2 separate regions of the Homo sapiens genome follow, and region 2 is linked to region 1. The links come from fine-mapping of genetic effects on gene expression. A gene starts in region 1. The other region holds a variant in brackets. All regions are shown on one strand. Distances are between the middles of the regions.

What was found. PIP is the estimated chance that this variant, and not a neighbour inherited with it, causes the effect.
Region 2: its variant is fine-mapped to the expression of TMEM17 in thyroid (GTEx, PIP above 0.99).

Annotation. Positions count from the first base shown.
Region 1 is chr2:62,501,792-62,511,522 of GRCh38, forward strand. TMEM17 (transmembrane protein 17) reads right to left here and starts at 4,404. Exons shown (of 4, transcript NM_198276.3): 1 at 4,239-4,404; 2 at 900-1,003; 3 at 646-759. The coding sequence starts at 4,338. It also overlaps the pseudogene RPL37P13. RefSeq lists an enhancer at 1-490 and silencers at 3,303-3,597, 3,935-4,104, 4,315-4,584.
Region 2 is chr2:62,467,509-62,477,239 of GRCh38, forward strand. It overlaps a transcript of TMEM17 not described here. Among named protein-coding and RNA genes, the nearest start is that of TMEM17, 34 kb to the right of the region's middle. RefSeq lists an enhancer at 8,108-8,840. The variant A/C (reference allele first, on the strand shown) is at 5,147.

The sequences.
Region 1 (9,731 bases):
TAGGCTTTTTAAGTTGTGGAGAAGAAGGAAGAGGCAAAAAGGTAAGTAAGCAAACACGTGAAATTAGCATGATTGGGAATCAGCACATCAGCCTGGAATGGATGGCTGAGTGAGAAAACAGCAAAACCTACAGTAAGACAGGCTGGGTGGGGCCTTATTATGAAGGGCCTAGAAAACCACGGGAATCTTTAGGCATTATCCCTATACTCTGGTAACCACAAATGCTTAGGCAGCATGATGATGCAGAAAACATGGGCCTGGCATAGGAAATGAATTCATAATTTTCCCCCATTTTCTTATTCAGGATCCAAATACACATGTTTAAGTAACCATGTATTTTCAAGACTGATAAGAAGAGGGAAAATATCAATTTTAAGTGTTTACTACATTCATATACTTTACATAAATCATTTCACTTAATCACAACAAACCTGTGAAGTAAATATTATTTTCCTCATTTTATATATGAGGAAACCAGGGCTCAAGAGATTAAGCAAACAGACCACAGTGACAGAAGTGGTAAAGCTGGAGTCAGGCTTTAAATTCAGGCCTGTGCTCTTTCTGCCACACCTCACTGCCTTTTACTTGTTATGAAAACTGATTTCATTTATATCTATCACTGAGAGAAAGGAAAAAAGAGCTTACCTTCTCCTGTAGGTTACCCACGTAGCCCAGATACAACCGGATGGCTTCAATTAAGGTTATTAGGATGATAACAGTGATCACAATGAATTTGTAGTAGTCAGGTAAGATTGAATACTAAAAGAAAAGCCAAAACATGTTTGTAAAATCTCATGTATAGTAACATTGATTTAAGATAGAAAAAATTATTAAGAACTTGAATTTTATTGACACTCTAACAACGTCAGGGCAGCAAAAGTATTAAAGCTTAGATTTACCTTCATGTGAAGCATCATAATGCTGCTCACCCACCACAGTGGGAAATAGTAGGTATTAAAATAAAGTGACATCTGCAGTGCCAAACTGGAGACCATTTCATTTTCTACAGAAGGAACAGAAAAGGAACAAATGATGAATCTTGGGTTTATGCCCTATATATATATATCCTATTCCCTAGAATTAATAACTATAATATTGGCTCAGTAAAACACCAAATTTTATGCCTATTTATAATCATTGACAGTAAAAGGAATATTCATCCTAATACCAGTTAGGTCAAATATTGGCTATTTGGGGGTACGTTTCATATTTTTCAATTATTTTACCATTTTGCCATTACAGTCTTCTGACTTTTTGGCATATACTACTGGTATAGATTTAATGTAGAATATCAACATAAATCCTATTCAACAGATAATTATCATTGCCTCTTTTGTAGAATTCTATGTAAATAGCATATAAAATTAATGCATAAAATAAATAAAAATGAATCTCCCACAGATAAACTAATCTTATACAAAAACGGATTACCAAGGTTATAATTAGACACATCTCTCTTTTCAGCATACCCTAATCTTAGCCATTCTTTAAAGTCCAATTCAGTGTCATCTTTTCCATCAATACTTCCTTCATCAGTTCCCCCACCTCAGCAGAAATACCTTTCCCCTTTAGGTACTTACCACTCTAAACTGTCAATAAGAAGTGCTAGCAAAGAACCACACTCCCCTCCCCAAAAAACAGTCTGGTGTACTGAACAGATCATGGGCTTCAGAGTTCAAGCAAATCCGAGCTCCCCAAACCTCTGTGACCCTGGATGTCAGACTTGACATGAATTATTTAAACTCTTTGAGCTTCTATTTCTTCATCTGTAAAATAGTGAAATTAAAACTTCCTCACAGGCTGTTTGTGAGAATTAGAGCCAATATAAATTATTTCATCCTAGCACTGTGCCTGGCACACTTAGTAGGCACTCAACAAATATTAGTCCTCTTTCCTTCTTCTCTTCTACTTATCTACAGGCTCATTGCAAGCACACACCATGTCCTACCCTAATTTGAGACCCTCATAGAATCTAGCATCTTGCTTTCCACGCAGTGAATATCAAATACACATAAGAATGAATTAATGAAAGTATACTGTCATAAGGACATTACTAGCATAGCCATTTGTGATACATGAGTTCCATTTACCTAAGGTTGATTCCATAACACTTTCTGCTTTTATGTAAGAGAGCAGGGTCCTAGATTAAGAATTTGATTTTTAAAATTGAGCCCTACAAAATACATCCTAAATTTGACTAAATTCTTAAGAGCAGACACATATATTGAAATCAGTTGCTGTACACGTAAGATTTTAAAGGCTCTAAAATAAATGTCTTAAAAACATTATTTTCTCCTTTTCTCCATAGCTGAGTGTTTTTATCTGTCACTTAATTATTTTAAAATATAAGAAATAGTCATGGTCTCTCACAGCAAAATAGTTTCTTTTAGCTCCAAGAATATGCCTGATTATTATGATCTACTTTTGCTTGCAACTGTTTATTAAATTACCACTGATAAAGGAATGAATTCTTAAAATCTGTTAAATCTGAAGACAACTCACCAGCCTAGGATCTTTTCGATAGCAACAGTACAAAGCTGCGGACATGGTAATGACATAAACTTGTTATTACAGTACAAATAATCAAACCTACTTCCAATCCACAAAGAAGAAAATTTGGGAAAGAATAATAAATTGGGCAAGCTGAACATTTCAGTACCTTTGAGAAGAAACTGTAGTCAAATTTTGCAAAGAATGGTTTTCATGTTAGAAGTATTGTGTGTTAACATCTTAAAGGTTATGCTATGTCCATATTTCAGCAGATCAAACTTATAATCATGGAAATGAAAATCAAATTAATATGTAAATGAACCTTAAAAGCGTAAGACATAAACTTACTAAATTTTGCAAAAGTTCAAGTTGAGTTCTGTAAATGGAATTTAAATTAAAACATACAATATAAATCAGGGATAGGTAAACAACTGGCCAGCTGCCTGTTTTTGTACAGTCAATGAGCTAAAAATGTTTTTTCACGTTTAAATGGTTAAAAAAGTAATATTTTTTCCACACGTGAAATCCATATGAAATACAAATTTCAGTGTCCATAAAGTTTTATTGGAACACAGCCCTGCCTATTCAATAACTATTGTCAATGGCTGCCGTGGAGACCATATGGCCTACAAAGTCTAAAATATTTACTATCTGGTCCTTTTCAGAAAACGTCTTTTTACCTTGTATTATCAGACGTTAGTGCTCATTAAGCCTCATCCTTGGAACCAGAAACGTGAAAACCTATTTTTTTCACATTTTTCTCTGTACATCCTAAATCATAAAGGCCTACATTTGGGAAATAGGCAAGTGATCAAGGTGACAAAATGCAGCTTTGGGAACTGCCTTTACTTTTCTCTGTCCCTTTTAAAAATTCTCTAAAACCAAGCAGAGGAAAAGATTGATATTTCCCAGCAGAGTTGAATGATGAAAACCACATGGGTTTGGTTGACAGTGTGTTGTCTACCATCATGATGTAGGAGGAGGAAACTGTTCTGGAGGAAACTGTGTTATCACTTGACATCAAGTTAAAGGACGCAGAAGCATCATGGTATTTTGTTACCTTATGATAAGAGTTACATATAGGGGAGGAGGAGAAGGCAGGGAAGGGGTGAGTTTTGTTGAACGCCCGGCTAGTATGGCACATGCCAGTGGGAGTGGATGGTGGTTTGAAAGGACTCATTAACTTTTTTTTTTAATGTCTTCTACGAGAAAATGGCCTTGCTTAGGAACATACTTGTTCTGCTAGGAAAAGGGAAAAGGCAAATTTGTTCCCTGGGGTGGGGGTGGGGACGGGGGAGGTGGGATTGCTTGGGCTATTCCTCGTCATCCTGGACAGAAAAGCCGGGGCGGGCGCCGCAGAGGCAAAACAACTTGGGCCTTCGCTCTCGCGGCGCGCGGGGGACCAGCCTGTGCAGCAAGGGCGGCTTTTATCTTTTTATTTTTGGGGTTTCTCCGGGACAATGATGGGCCTTGCGCGGCACAGAGATCGGCCCCACGTCAGCTGCCGCGCTTGCAACAAGCTGGCCAGGGAGCACCACGCGGAGACCAGGCCCGGCCGGGGGCGGGAGGCCGCCAGCGCCTCAGCTCCCTGTCCGGCCCGGCCCCTCCTCCAAGGCGCTCTCCCGCACTGCGGAGAACTGGCTGAAGGCGACATCGCCATTTTAGGTACGGGCAAATTCTGGACGCTCCAAAATCCACGCCAAGCCCTCGGCAGGCCACACCCCCTGCACCGGGCCTCGGTCACTCACCCGGACCCTCATTGGACTCTGGACCGGTCCGATTGGAATCACTGAACACGGCCCGGCTGAAGTTTCCCAGCCGCTGGCGCACCGGATCCGGCAGCTCCATGCCTGGGCCTCAGTATCCCTCACCCCCTCAGACACGGGCTAGTCTGCGGGCGCTCCGAGGCTCCGTGGTTCCCACGGCAACCGGGCGGCGCGAGGCCGGCGGGACCCGGGAGCGCGCGGGGCTGCCCGGCTGGGCTGGGTCTCGTCCGGAGCCCGCGCAACCTGGAAGGGACCGGCGCGCTCAGAGCGCGTTCCAGGCCCAGGGAGCCGCGCGCCTCGGCCGTGTACAAAACGGCAGATCCCTTAGTTCTGCTTTGAGCTCGACCATCCTAAAAACAAACCTATACTAAGAAATGAGCTGGGGTTGGACTGCGATACAAGGAGCCCTCACATTTGCCAGTGGAACTGTAAATCGGTACAACCTTTCTGGAGAGAAATAGAGAACGAATGCAGAGCTTAAAGAATGTCTAGAGGTGTAGGGGTGTGTGTGAGAGAGAGAGACATCATGTGACTGATTATTTTTTAATAAGAAAACAGCAATGGGCAACTGATTAAATGTACTGGAGCACATACATTCAATGGAGTATGTTTCAGCTGCTTATAAAATGCTTGCAAAGGATATTGAATGGTATAGTTTAACTTTATGTAAAAATACAGCAGAAATAAAACTAAATGAGAATGAACCTAATTTAGCAAAATTTATGTGTATGAGTGGAGGGGAGGAGAGAGCGTGTGCACACTGGCTTGAAAAAAAGAACTGGAAAAAAGTCCAAAATGTTAACAGTCGTTTTCACTGGATAGTGGGATTGTAGGTGATTCAAAAATTTTTAAACGTCTTATTTTCTAGCTTTCTCTCAAGATATATTACTTAAAAAAAACTAAGTGTAATACACATACAGAAAAATTGTACACCTTTTGTAAGTAATATATATTACTTAAGAAATAAGTGTAATATATATACATAGACTGAAATCTGTATGTGTAATCAGCACCCTGTTCAAGAAACTTTACAATATTCCCAGAAACTCCCCCTTCCTATTTCCTTTCAGTCACTAAACCCACTCCTCACTCATAACTGACCTTTCCTGAATTCTAACAGCAAAGGAGAGTTTTGCCTTTTTTTTTTTAAATCAGAACATTTATTGTGTGACTAATCTAAAATTTTTTTTTTTTTTTTTTTTTTTAGACAGAATCTTGCTCTGTCACCCAGGCTGGAGTGCAATGGCACAATCTCGGCTCACTGCAACCTCCGCCTCCTGGGTTCAAGTGATTCTCCTGCCTCAGCCTACCGAGTGGCTGGGATTACAGGTGCCCGCCACCACACTCGGCTAATTATTGTATTTTTAGTAGAGACAGGGTTTCGCCATGTTGGCCAGGCTGGTCTCGAACTCCTGACCTCAAGTGATCCACCCGCCTTGGCCTCCCAAAGTGCTGGGATTACAGGTGTGAGCCACCGTACCTGGCCTGAAATTCTTAAGATGAACTGGATGCTGCAGCAGCTGTCCTCTTGGGTTTAGGTGGCATTCCTTTAAAAAATCCATGCCTTAACCTGCTGTACACAATTTTTAAGTGCCTCATTCGACCAGTCCCACTGGTATATTTTTTAGCCTCGGCACTCCAATTATACTTTATCTTGGCTTGGGAGGGTAGCCGCGTTTGCCACAGGCGGACTTTTGAAGGAGTTAGAGTCACAGGGCAGCACTAGCTGTGCATCTTATCGCACCACTTTCTAGATGATGACACTCCCTTTGTCATCTTGCTTCTGTTTTGCATATTTATATAAAAGCAATCATACTGTAAGTACTTTTTTAAAAAACTGGCTTTGTCTTCAACATTACTTTCATGAAATTCCTTCATGTCATTGAGTGTAGATTCTTTTGCCTTGCTCTTTGTGATCATACCACAATAAGCTTACTCATTCTACTGTTGATGAGTGTCTGTATTTTCTAGTTTGGAGCTGTTGTGTATAGTGCTGCTTTGGGGAAAAGATGCCTCTTGGTGAACATATGCATGCATTTTTGTTGAGTGTATATCGAGAGTGGAATTGCCGTGTCATAGGATACGAAAGACCCAGCTTTAGTAGAGGCTGCCTACAGTTTTCCAAAGTGATCAAACCAATTTCTGCTGCCTCCAGCAATGTGTGAATATTTCCATTACTCCATATACTTCACCAACACTTGTTATTTCTTATCCTTTCCTTTTAGCCCTTCTGATGGGTGTGTGGTAAAAGTATTATTTTTACAATCAAAAGGAAAATTACACATTTATATAAATGCAAGAAGAAGATATGGGTGGAAATAAGTTCATGACTAGAATTTTAAAATAATTACACAAACGTTTATTGCATTCCTACTGCTTATTTGGATATCGTGCTAGGCTAATTAGGGATATGGTCCCTCCTCATCAAGAAGCACAGCTCAGTGAAAGAGAGACATGGAAACAAGTAAGTGCAAACACTGTTATTAGACGTGCTCTATTAAAGGACCACGTCTTTTAATTATTAAAGAAGCAATTAATTCGGGTTGAGGATGTCAGGGAAAAGCTGGTTAACTTCTGCTTCATTTCAAGATGGAGTTCAGACCTGAGAATCTCCAAAAAGGCTTCTAGGACCTTCCTGAAATAGCTTAGGTGCTCTCTTCTGTGTTTCCCAAAGCATCTTCCTCTTGTTTCTTTGGTCACAGTGCTGGTCACTCTATACTAAAATTGTCTGTTTATGTGTCTGTGTCTCTTGCTAGTCCTCAAGCTCTTAGAGGTCAAGAATGGACTTTCATCTTTATATCCCCAACACTAGCACAGTGTGGTACCTGGCCATGAGTAGGAGCTGGATGACTGTTGAGTGAGTAAAAGGAAGAAAAAGCCTAATGACCACTCTCTTGTCTTCCCCTTCTAGTTCAAGGACTTAGCTAGCCCTTTAAAAGGTTCACTTTGTAAAATGGTGAATTGGTGTATTAAAACATAGTGAATCATAACAATTTAAAAAACCTTAGCAACAGAGAATCACTTTTCATTTATCAAATGAACCGAGATTTTTTATAAACGGAACAGTGAAGCAGGAGGCCTCAGGCTCAGCTGTTGAATTATAATTTGGCCAACCGCATTGAGACAAGTAATCGGCAATGTATAGAAATAGCCTTTAAAACGTTCCTGCCTCCTTTAACACGATAAAATCTTAAGGCGTGCTCTATTAAAGGAAAATAATCATAGAAACAAAGTTTTATACACCAAATGCTTCTCCAACATTATTGATAATTGTTTAGAAAAGAGGGGAATGGGCATTTGAAGTGCCCAACCACAGGGCCTCATTAAGCAGATTACGATATTTATGGCAAGGTGTTGGGCTGCAGTAGAAAGAATGTCCTTGGAAGCTGAGAGGGCAGGGTTCAAATACCCTAAAATTCTCGATGTACCACTTAACAGCTGTGTGACTGATTTCAGATACTCGTTTTGTAAAGTAAAAATAATGATATCTTACTGTTGTGGTTGATGTGATATTATATCATTAAGGCTCTCTATACATGATAGCTACCATTTACACATCAATTAAAATGAAGTTTATGAAGAAACAACACCTAGAGTGGAGTCAAATAATGCTGGTATTTAATTTTGTAAATTCAACTGGACCTGCTAGGTAATACCTCTGTTGCTTTCCTAATAAAGACAGTGGAGGCAGTTAAGCATTAAAGCACTCCATTATGTTAACCAAAAACCTATGTGAATTCTTATCAAAAACCTAAGTGAATTATTTTAAAGATATTTTCCCCTGGCATTGAAAAAAGATGCAAGATACCTTCTTCAGATTGTAATTATGTTATCAAAATCCTGGAGGAAAAAAAGTGATAGAATTATGGGTATTTTTCCTTCTAATTTTATTATTCAAATTTCCTATATGAGCGTACATTTTCTAGTTAGAAAAAAATCTTGTTAAAAATAAATTGAGAGGAAGAGGCAATGATGATGCAAAAACATTAGAGAAGATAATTTGAGAGGAAAAAAAATGTGGTTTGGAATGAGTCCTGCCATTATTGATGTATCATAAATGGTCCAAGGGGCTCAAAAAAACTTTCCAAATGTTATCTTATTAGTTGATACTCCCAATATTTATAGGCAATTACATTAGAAATACTAAAGGAGATCCTTCAGTGTTTCACTAATGTGATTGCCTATACAGGTGGGCATCCACATTCATGAAAAATGAAGAATTGTATGATTTGGGTTTCCCATCTTCTAGACCTACTACTTACTTAGGATCTAAAGAAAGAAGTATGGGCCAGGCACGGTGGCTCACACCTGTAATCCCAACACTTTGGGAGGCCAAGGCGGGCTGATCACAAGGTCAGGAGTCCGAAACTAACCTGCCCAATATGGTGAAACCCCGTGTATACTAAAAATACAAAAATTAGCTGGGTGTGGTGGCGGGCCCCTGCAGTCCCAGCTACTCGGGAGGCTGAGGCAGGAGAATTGCTTGAACCTGGGAGACAGAGGTTGCAGTGAGCTGAGATCGTGCCACTGTACTCCAGCCTGGGCGACAGAGTGAGACTCCGTCTCAAGAAAAAAAAAAAGAAGTACGGAATCTCTGTACTTAAAATCACGGGAATCATTTTAGGTTAATGAATAGTCCCATAAAGTTTAAACTGCTTAGTTCTTATACCAGTGTTGATGTTCAGAGTAATAGCTGTTTCTGCAATAGTTGTTTAATGTATTTCTTGGGGTTTAATTACATTTATTGTTTGCTTATTTGTTTTCACAAACATTTTGAGACTGATGCAATGATTAGCTTCCCTTTGATAAGGGACCATGTTGTCTGGTAATAATGTATTACCTTATATGACAAGAAACTGATTTGGGGAGTTATTTATTTATTGAGATAGGGTCTCACTCTGCTGCCCAGGCTGGAGTGTAGTGATGCAGTCATAGCTCACTGTAGCCTCAATCTCCTGGGCTCAAGTGATCCATCCACTTCAGTCTCTCTAATAGCTGGGACTACCGGGGTATACCACTGCACCCAGCTAACTTTTTTTTATTTTGTAGTGACAAGGTCTCCCTATGTTGCCTAGGCTGGTCTCCAACTCCTGGGCTCAAATGATCCTCCCACTTTGGCCTCCCAAAGTGCCAGGATTACAGGCATGAGCCACCACACCTGACCTCAGTTATTTAAATTACTCCTTGGCATAAAAAAAAATTCTTTCCACTTGATACTAATAAAGAGTTTAGAAATATTTTTAAGTAAGTATGTCATTCAGTTTATTGCTTTAAAATGAACTGAGAGACATTTCTCAGAATCTAGATAAATTTAAAAGATAAATTATATATTTGGGTATAATATATAATTATGATGATGATATGATTCCACATCGGCATCCACATTAAAAAAATCTTACTCTAAATTACCTGAAATGTAATCTTAGAATCCTCAAATTGTTAATGGATAAGCAAAGATTTTTTGATACAAGTCCC
Region 2 (9,731 bases), 34 kb before region 1:
CAAGGCCTCATAGAGATAGAGTGGGCTCTGCCTCAGGTGCCAACTGAGCACTTGTCTCTTCTGGTTCAGTCCTGCTTTGTTCTGCTTAGTCTCATTGAAAGACTGAGCAGTAATGACCCTGTTTGAATCCTCCCAAACTGCGTGTCCCTTTGGTTGAAAGTCAGCGGCTCTGTTTTCTGGCTGCAGGGCCAGGTGGAGCTGTGATGATTCAGGGCTGGGAAAGTCAGGGTTTCTGGCCTAAGGAGCTCCTCTAAGCTCCAGAGACATGGAGGCCAAGTAGTCTCAGAGGTTCACACAGTCTGCAAAGGCCAGGTGGCAGGGCCTGGGGTGGTGGGTGAGCTTCCCTGCAGGAGCATGTGGGCATGCCATCTCTCCTTTTTTTTTTTTTTTTTTCTAATCAGAAAACAGATGCGAATTGTGAAACCAAGTGTTTGTTGACTCAGGACTCAGGACGTCTTTCAGAGGAAGCAAATCCTCGGGGTACTCAGCATGCCCTCTGCTGGGTCTGGTTAGGAAGGCTTGGGGTTGAGGAGTTGTTAGTGGTATAACAGTAGCCCCAGAGTTTGATGTGGCTTTGGCAAATGTGCAGGGGGCTGGAGTGATTCCCTTTCCCTCCTCTAGGAAAGCCCCTTTCCACTTCACCCCTGCTGGGTGAGCCCTGTCCTGGTGCTCTTCCACGTGACTCTACAGAGGCAGCCAGCAGCCTTACTGGCTGGCTCTTAAAGAGGCTGCGGTTTGGCCCAGGGCTGAGCAAAGAGAGAAGGCCGTGTGTTCTCTAGCCTCAGGAGAGCTGGGGGCAGGGTATGCCAGCACATCCCTGGACTAGCCTACACCCTGTCAGGTTTTCAAAGCATGGAAAAGACCCTAAAAATTAGAAGATTGGGACCCCACATCTTCGTTTGACATTTAGCCTGAAGTCCAAGGGACAGTCATCTTTGGCCCCTTAAAATATCAGTGACTTCCAGTGGAATTACAGTTGGGGTCCTGACTTGAGCTGTTGATGTTTTTGTCACATCTACGTTTAACCTCTAGATTGCTAGATAGAACTGTGTGTATGTGGGTGCATGTGGGTGTTGGGGGAGAGGGTTGTCACAGTGGACTGAGTGTTCACCATAGAGAGAACTTGGAGACACAGGGGAGAACCAAAGAGTAAAGTCCCAGACTGCAAGACCCTTATGGTTCAGCTGATAAGCAGACAGTCCCATATATGTGCAAGAAACCAAGGATGCTTGTATTTGTGTTTGCCAGCAAGGCCGATTCAGGGGGCTGAAGCCCATCAAGTGTGGCTGTCAGAGAACTGGGGGATGGCTCAGAGGTGGGAGGGGACTAGCTAGAGGCATGGTAGCTAGAGCTAGCAGAGTTTGACAGAGCCAAGTGTTGTCCTTGGAACAAGAACCAAAGGTAACCTAGAAGCCCACATACCCCATTTCTGAATGCAGACCATGGGGTCAATTAGGGTCTATGTCATGTCAGGCCCAGCAATGGCAGCCACCCACCTCTTTTACCCTCTGTCATTGCATCCCCAGATGGCCAAGCCAAACAATACCTTTACTGTTCCAGGAAATGTACAAATGCATTTGATGATATTTCAGGTACACATTTAATTTTTAGTTAGCATAAATGTGTACACTATACAGGCAACACTTAGTACAGAAGAAGGTACATACCTAAATTGGCTAGTGGCATATTCCAACCTCAGGTTCAGGCCAAATAGAACTGGTTGGGCTTGTGGAGATTGCTAACCTCTTCCCTCAAAGAGGACCCAGGATGGGATCAGGGTGGGATGGGACATGTTATGCAAGGCTGGGAGGTCACCTGACCCCGTCACATGTGTGATCTTGGGGAAGTACAAACTTTGCTGAGACTTTTTACCTTCATTTTCAAACTGCATGGGCTCATTTAGCTTCTTGCCAAGATCTTTTCAGCTAATTCTTTTCTTTTTTCTTTAATTAAAAATCCAGAGATTGAATTGCCCTAGAAAATGCAAACATTCAATGGTGTTGCCAAATTAGGATTTCTTCTCCTCACTTTCAGAGCTCTTTCCAAGGAATTTTATTTAAAGAAAACAAACATTTACAGTTGTTGGTTCATCAGTCTGCCTGTTGCCTGTTGCCAGGTGTTGGGAGGCAAACAGCAGTTTGAAGACTATCTGGCTGTTCTTCTGAGTATAGTTGCTGAGGTCAGGAAGATAGAAGGACAGAAGGAGGCACATTCTTGGCTCCTGAGCATAGGAAAGTGTGCAAGGAGGCCCAGGTGGCTTTTCTGTTGGCTGACACTTTGCAGTCTTTGAGAAGACGCAGTGTCTGGTGCTCTAGAAGCAGGCTGTCTCCTGGCCATTGGCTGCCTGGGCAGCCTGGGTCCTGCTGGCTGGCTGCAAGTTTGTCTCAGGTTGTCTGATCTCTTTCCTTTCCGCAGTCCCTGAGAGAGTCCATCCCCACTCCAGTCCCAGGGCCTCTGCCTTTGTATCCCCATGTTCCCCGGGCCTTGATCCACATGTCCAGCATGTCCTCTCATTTTCCTGGCCCCTAAAGAAAAGTTCACCCCTGAGCCAGCAAGCTGCTCCTTCCTTCAGGTCTTGGAGCTCTAAGAAGACACCCATTAGTTGGTTTGTTTCCCTTTGGCATAATTACATCTTGATTAGTCTGCTTCCTCCACTACACTGATTAATCCTTGGCTGGGGGCACCTTTCCTCTGTATTATGAGCACTTCTCTCTCAATCTCTCCACCCCTAGGGTATAATTCCAAGGTCCTAAAGTTCCTCTTCCAAATCACAGGATCCTGGGGCTGGCTCTGGAGAGAGTTAAATGGGACATTGCACTCAAAGACAAATCTACTGTAAGGTTCTGATCTGAATCCCGAAATCTACATGTTCCCATGCAGAGTTCTCAATTCCTGCTTCCTCAATTCCCCTGCCTGGTGTGGCTGCCCTCAGAGGGATAAACATTCATGAGCAGATTTGGGCTCATGCCACAGCCTGTAGTATTTCAGGTGAGTGCAGTGTCGATAGATGAACATTTTCACAAGTGCAGCTGCCTTCAGCTGGATGACAACCAGCCCTCACCTCCTTGGCCAGAGGCCCAGGCACACAGGGTCCTCAGTCACTCACTGTGGCTGGCCCACCACTGGGGGTGGGGTCCACCTTGAAGCAGCCTGCACAATCCCACCAGCTTCTCTTCACCTTCTTGCATTCTCCCAGCAAGACCACAGCCCCTCACAAAGAGCTCCCAAAGAACGGTCCAGGGGAAAATTCAGCTGTCTTTATTATCTCCTGTTCTCCAAATGGCTCATGGGAAAGAGATCAGGTCAACTTCATTTTCTCTCAGGAGGAACACTGCAACCAACACCCTTATTTAACTTAACCACTCCAGTTCCAAGGGCTGCTTACTTGAGCCTGTCTTGAGAACAGAGCCTTTGGAGCAAGCAAAGCCTGTTTGCAAACAGTGAGATGTAGGTCCTCTCCTGGGGGCTACAGGCTGCTGCTTCTCAAAAAGAGGCCACACCAAGGGAATGTGAGCAATGGAGAGGAAGCTCAGCCTCTCTCCAGATGCAGGGTCTGGACTGCGGGTTCCAGGTAGTGCCCTTGGGCCCCGTGACCTGAGGAGCTGAGAGAGGCCCACGAGCAATCAGCAAGTCACTAGTCTTTATTAGGCACTTAATGCGTGTGGAGGGTTGGCAGAAAGGCTGTAGGTAGGGAAGCTAAAATGTCCTGGCCCGTCTTGGGAAGCTTAGAACCAATTGGGGAAGTAAGACCAACACAGAGAGCAGTTAGAGTACATAAAGGCCACTAGCTCACTCTGTGACTCTGGGCAATGCTCTTAACCTCTCAGAGGCTCCATTAACTCGTCTGTAAGTTGGGGATAATATTAACAATAGCCAAGCCAAGGCTGGACCAATCAGGTGAATTTTTTGAGCTTCCTTCTGTTTCTAAGACTGATGACTCTGTGAGATCTACACTGTACTTCAAACTTCTTGTTCAAAGGAGTTCAAAGAACGGTAGCACTTGTGGGCTAAAATGGTCAGAGATTGCTTCCTAGATTGGGAATTCCTTGCAGGTAGGGCTGGGGAGTTTAATCTTTGTGTCTCAATCCCTAGTCCACTCCTGGAATTCAGCAGGTGCTCAATAAATGCACCTATCCTGAAGGAGTGCTGGGGAGGGGGAGGAGCTTGGTCTGAATCTTGAAAGATTAGAATTTGTCCGGTGCCTAGGAGAAGGGAGGGCCTTTTGGGCAGGGGGCAAGGCTGAGGCTGGAAGCCAGGGTAGAAACATGGCATGGATAATGGCTGTGGGCTGGTGTGCCTTGCTGTTTGTTGACAACTTCTGCACAGCAAAGCATTTAATGTCTGAACTCTTCTCCACGGGCTGCTGACTATAGTCGTCTATGGTGTTTCAGCCCATCTGGCAGAGGGACTCTTGGCCCCATTAACGTGCCTTTATCTATATTGGAAGAGCAAGAACTCAGATGCGGAGTCAAGGACCCTGGCTGGAGTGGGGAGCAGCCCAAAGCCCCAGGAGCAGTAGTGCTGAAGCCAACCTTGGCGGGGTTTCAGCCTCGGCAGCAGGTTGCTGAGAGTGTGGGTGGGAATACAGATATTTTGTTCAGGGAAGTGGGAGGAATTTCGAGTTCTTTTTGGAAAATAGGATAGGTTAGCTCATTTATTACTCATCCAGTCTTTTAAAGGATAACACAGACTTAATGCTAATCTAAAAGTATTTTCCAACAAAAGCTCTGAAATGTGAGAGGGACACAAGAAATGTCACAAACAGCTCCCTTTCCAGCAAAAGAAGGGTGGGCATGAAGAACCATAGCAGAGTCTTGGGGCTTTCCCTGCAGCCTGGAATGAGAAGCCCTTCATGGTCCATGTCTATTTGATTACTGCAGACTCTAGGCTTTCCATGCACCACTGAGGAAGTAAAATCGAGGGAGAGAAGGATATTTATTTATTGGCTCTGGCTGGCGTCTCCCCTGTCTGTCTCCCAAATGAAGCTATTTGGGCTCACTCCAAACCTTAGGGAGTGGACAGAGGCTAGTCTGCTGGGGATGGAAGTTTTGCTGGCTGTCATTCCACTCTCCCAACTACCCAAAATCCAAAACAGATGTATTTCCCAACCTTCCTGATCCAGACTCAGATGCTCAAGGTCAAGGGG[A/C]TCTCCTCAGTATTATTTCTGGTCTCATGGACACTGGGCAATGGGGTGGTAGATTGCTTTTGGGTTCTCCCAGGTTTTAATGTGTCTCTCAACCAATGCCTAGAACTATGTTAGGCATAGTTGGGAGATAAAGAAAATGCACAAGACAGAATTGCTTGCCTCAGGAAGCACATGGAGGTTTAAGATATCAAGATCAACACATTCAAAACAATTAGAAGTAGACTGTGTCAAGGTGGCAATTAAAGGCAACTTTCTTAGAGCTCAGCCGTGGCTGGCCTATTTTGGAGACACAACACACACAGAAAGAAACTCAGGAGTGTCTGGGCTGAGAGATTCTTCAGGAGGCCAGAACTGCCTCTAGCAATAAGAACCAAACTCAGAGATGGGAAAACTTCAGGATGCAGGAATCACAAAAATCAGGTGGCTTCTCACCTAGAGATGATTTACTATCCCCTCCCTCTCCTCCATTAAGAGAATGTTAAATAATAGCCAACATTTATTATGCATCAGGCACTGTTCTAATTGCTTTAACAGAAGTAGGTCAATTGATCCTCTGAATACCAGTGAAGTAGGTACTATTATTAACCCCTATTTCTGGATAAGAAAACTAAGGTACTGGGAGGACCCAACCACACCGCCAAAACCCAGAATCCAGAGTAAGGTTCCTGATCCCAGGCTCAGCTGCTCCCTGTGGGCCAAGCTGAGGATCTGGCCAGGACTTAGGAGGTGAGAACATAGTAGAGACTGCAGCAGAGATGGTAGCCTGAAGCAGAGATGGCCCCTTGGAAGTTCTGGAGGGATGCAGAGATGTCCTTTCCTGGGAAAGTAGCCAAATCAAAGAACTCCCACCCAAGGCCTCTTGGCTGCAGAACCAGCTTTACCCCTCTCCTCCCCACTCCCTGCTTCAGCTGCTGGGAGTGAGGGAAGCAGCAGAGGATTGCAGCTTCCCCAGGCTTCTTGCTGATGAAATATCTCATCTACACACTTTCCTACTGTTTACACATCATGGTGAGCAGGTGGGCAGACCACAGCCATGCAGATTTTCAGACAGCCTCAGGAATACCAGGACTGGGGCTGGTAGGCAGAGACTGTATCAGCAAAGGACATGTTGGTGGAACTAATGACCTGGTAATTTCCACAAGGGATCACAGAGGGATGCTGGACAATGTGGCAGAGACTCTGCTTGCTTTGGAAACTTTCAGAAGAGAAAGGAGGAAGTAGGTCTTCTTGGAGGATCCCAAGCTTGAACTGATCATTGCAGAAAGAGTGGAAGTAAGAGGGGCTGGGTGTGAGTCTCCTGAACAGAGACGAGAAGGACTCTGCACAGCCACAGGACCATCCATGCAGGGACCCAGGGAGGCCACACTGAGGATGGGGAGGGGCCAGAGTGGTGGGGTGGAGAGGCCTTCACTGTGAGCTTCAGGAGGGCCTGCTTGTCAGGCTTTGGGAGTCCTCAAAGAGCCTAAGAAGGGAGCTGCTGCGTTCTCCACAAACCCTTATTTTACTTGTTTTGAATAAAACTGAAGCAAAAAAGGAGAGAGAATCCTGATTTTCCTTTTATAAGAGACAAAACTTCCAAAATAGTTCAGTTTTGCAGTCCAGTTGCTTTGATAGGAAAATTGTGTGGAGAGGGATATTTAAATGAGATCTATATCTGTGGTGAGAATAGCTCCATTTCCCTGAAATGTTTGCAGCCACAGCATTCCATGTCCACAGGCTTGCAAATCTCTCCCAAAGCTCAGCCCACAACCTGCTCTTCAACCCACGCTGAAGCTGCGTCTGTCTCCAGAACAAATAATACTATGTCTTTCTTCAGGCCATGAAAGCACGGTAACGTTCCTACATAAAATAGCAGCAGCTAAGGGGTCTTTGTTGAATTAAACAGGAGGCAGCAAATTCAGGACTAGATAATGAACACCTACTGTATGGCAGCTACTGGGGAATACAAACATGAATAAGACCTTACCCCTTGAAGAGGATCAGAGGGCCGGTGAACCCATGGGAGACACAGCCCAGGGTGCCCTGGGGGCTGGTAGCATGACAGACTTTTCTAGTTTTGGCTCTGAAAATTCCACATCCCAGGAAAACTACCCTAAACCCATATCCCCAGTCCCAGTTAAACTGGGGCTATTATTCATCTTCCGAGGGTCTCTGACTGTTGGAATCTGTTTCCTCATCTCGTTCCTTGCCTCTATCCCACCCCTGCAAATAGGCTTTTGAAATAAGCCAGCATTTAACTTCAGATAATAATAATGATTGATAATGAAACTAAAAACAGCAACAGCAATCTACCCTTGATGATAGTTCACCACCCCGGCTGCCTATTGGAATCACTTGGGACGCTTTTTAAAAAGATCAGCACCCAGGTCCTATCTTAGAACAATTAAACCTGATGTTCTCCAGGTGCTTTCCATGTGCAAGCAGCAGGAGAAACACTGCCTAGGGTTTAGGATGCTGCAGGAGAAGCTCCAGGAGAAGCAGCAGGAAGGGGGCTGCCCAACCCTGGTGTATTTCCTGGGGTGTTTTCAGCTTCTGAGCCAGACCAAGGCCACTCAAGGATGGTGAGGACAGACCCGGCAGGTCCTAGCACAGATGCTAATTTGGGAAGCAGCCTCTGAGCCGCACCACAGGCACTCCACTGTGTCTGTCCTGTCTTGGGGCACAGCGGCAGAGGCATGCCCACGCAGCCGGGCTCAGCGCCTCTTCGAGAGGGACCGCTGAGTGCGGCTGTCCTCTCCAGTGGGCCCGGGAACCTACGAGAGTCCCTGCCCACCCATTTCCAGCCCCCTGGCCTTGCTTCAACAAGTCACGCCTGGGCTGTTTTCTAGGCTGCTGCTCCCTGGCGGTTCTGGGTTTCCCATTTGTCACCTCCGTGAGAGAAATTAACAGTTTTGCCAGACCCCATATAAACAGGAAGGCAAGCTGTTAACAAGAGCCTCCTGCCCTGCTGCCAAGCCCAGAGCTCACGTTTCCTTTCTCAGAGCCTGTCAATTGTAAAGAGGAGAAAAGAAAAGAATGGGCTCTCTCTGGGCACTGTATGGGTTCTCTTGCGGCCACTTGAATGCCAGTGTCGGGCTCGCTGACAGCTGGGTCTGCAGCTGGCTGGTTTTGTCTGTTTTTTGAGGGACAGTCAGGGATAGCCACTGATTAAATCAGGAACAAAACATGACTACACTTGCGGCTGTGCAGACCAATGCTGCTGAACAGCAGAGAACAATTAATTGCCATGTTGTGGAATGTGTGGATGGGGGCGGGGAGGCAGTTGGCAAATGTAAGAATGTGCAGGAAAATGTCAAGCAAATGCTCGTGTTCATTAGAAGCTGAGGGAGAGGGAGCCAGCTCAGTGTGTTCCCAGGACCTACCACGGTGTCAGAGCTCTGGCCACTGCCTGCGTGCCCAGCAAGCAGCCTTCCCACTGGGGGCGGTCAGCCCACTGATGTGCTGCAAGGGGGTCATGCTTTGTCAAATAAGATAGGGAGCCCCTCAGCTCTTGGGGTGGCAGTTGTATCCATTTTCTTGAATATAGGGCACAAAAATGCCCATTTTCTATGTATGTTGTTGCAGAAAAAGGCTGGCTCCCTGCAGGTTTGCTGTGGGCTTCACTCTAGGCACTATGCAGCATCTACTGTGATGCTCTGGAAGCTTGCAGCCTGACTCTTATCCAAAAACCAGACAGGGAGGGCATTGGTGGGAGGCAGCAGTCCCTCAGCCTTCCACTACCACCAGGTAAGAAGATGGCTGCTCTTCAGTGATGCAGATTCACAACAGCTTCTGCAGAAAGACAGGAGCGGGAGGCTATGTGGATACAGGCACTCTTCAGCTTATGATGGAGCTACACCCTGATAAACCCATTGTAAGTAAAAAATATTGAAGTAAAAAATGCATCTGATACCCTGATAAACCCATTGTAAAGTTGAAAAATCCTAAGTTGCACCATCATAAATCAGGGACTATCTGTATGTATTTAAGCTAGGGAAGTGAAATGCATTCATATATTAAAAGAGATGGAAAAGAAGAAGAGCAAGAATGGTATCCAAAGGGGTCTGGAATAGCTGTGAGATGGTTTGGGGCCTGGACAAGGGGAATTTAGAAATTGTTGGATGCTTTTTGACATATCTCTATGAATGTTAAAGACTGAAATTCCTTTTTATAAAAGCTTTATTGCTTGCTGAGCTGTGTATTGGACTTCCTGCTGAGACTGAGCCCCACAAGGCCCTGGCATTTATTGGGGTTACAGAAGAATGTTATCTTTCCTATCCTGTGTCCTCCCTGGAGAGTTGAGCCCCAGATAAGGGATGGTGTGCAGGTGGTTTATTTGGAAGTTCTTTGGGAGGTGATCCTAGGGGGCAGAAGTGAGGGACTGGGGAGAGAGAGGGAAGGAGGGATAGTCAACATACGGTGTGTTATTGAGGCCATTGCCGAGCAACTGCAGCTTAATCCCTCCCAGGACCTTCTCTCACAGCCGGGAGCAGTGGCTCACGCCTGTAATCCCAGCACTTTGGGAGGCTGAGGCGGGAAGATCACCTGAGGTCGGGAGTTTGAGACCAGCCTGGCCAACATAGTGAAACCCCATCTCTACTAAAAA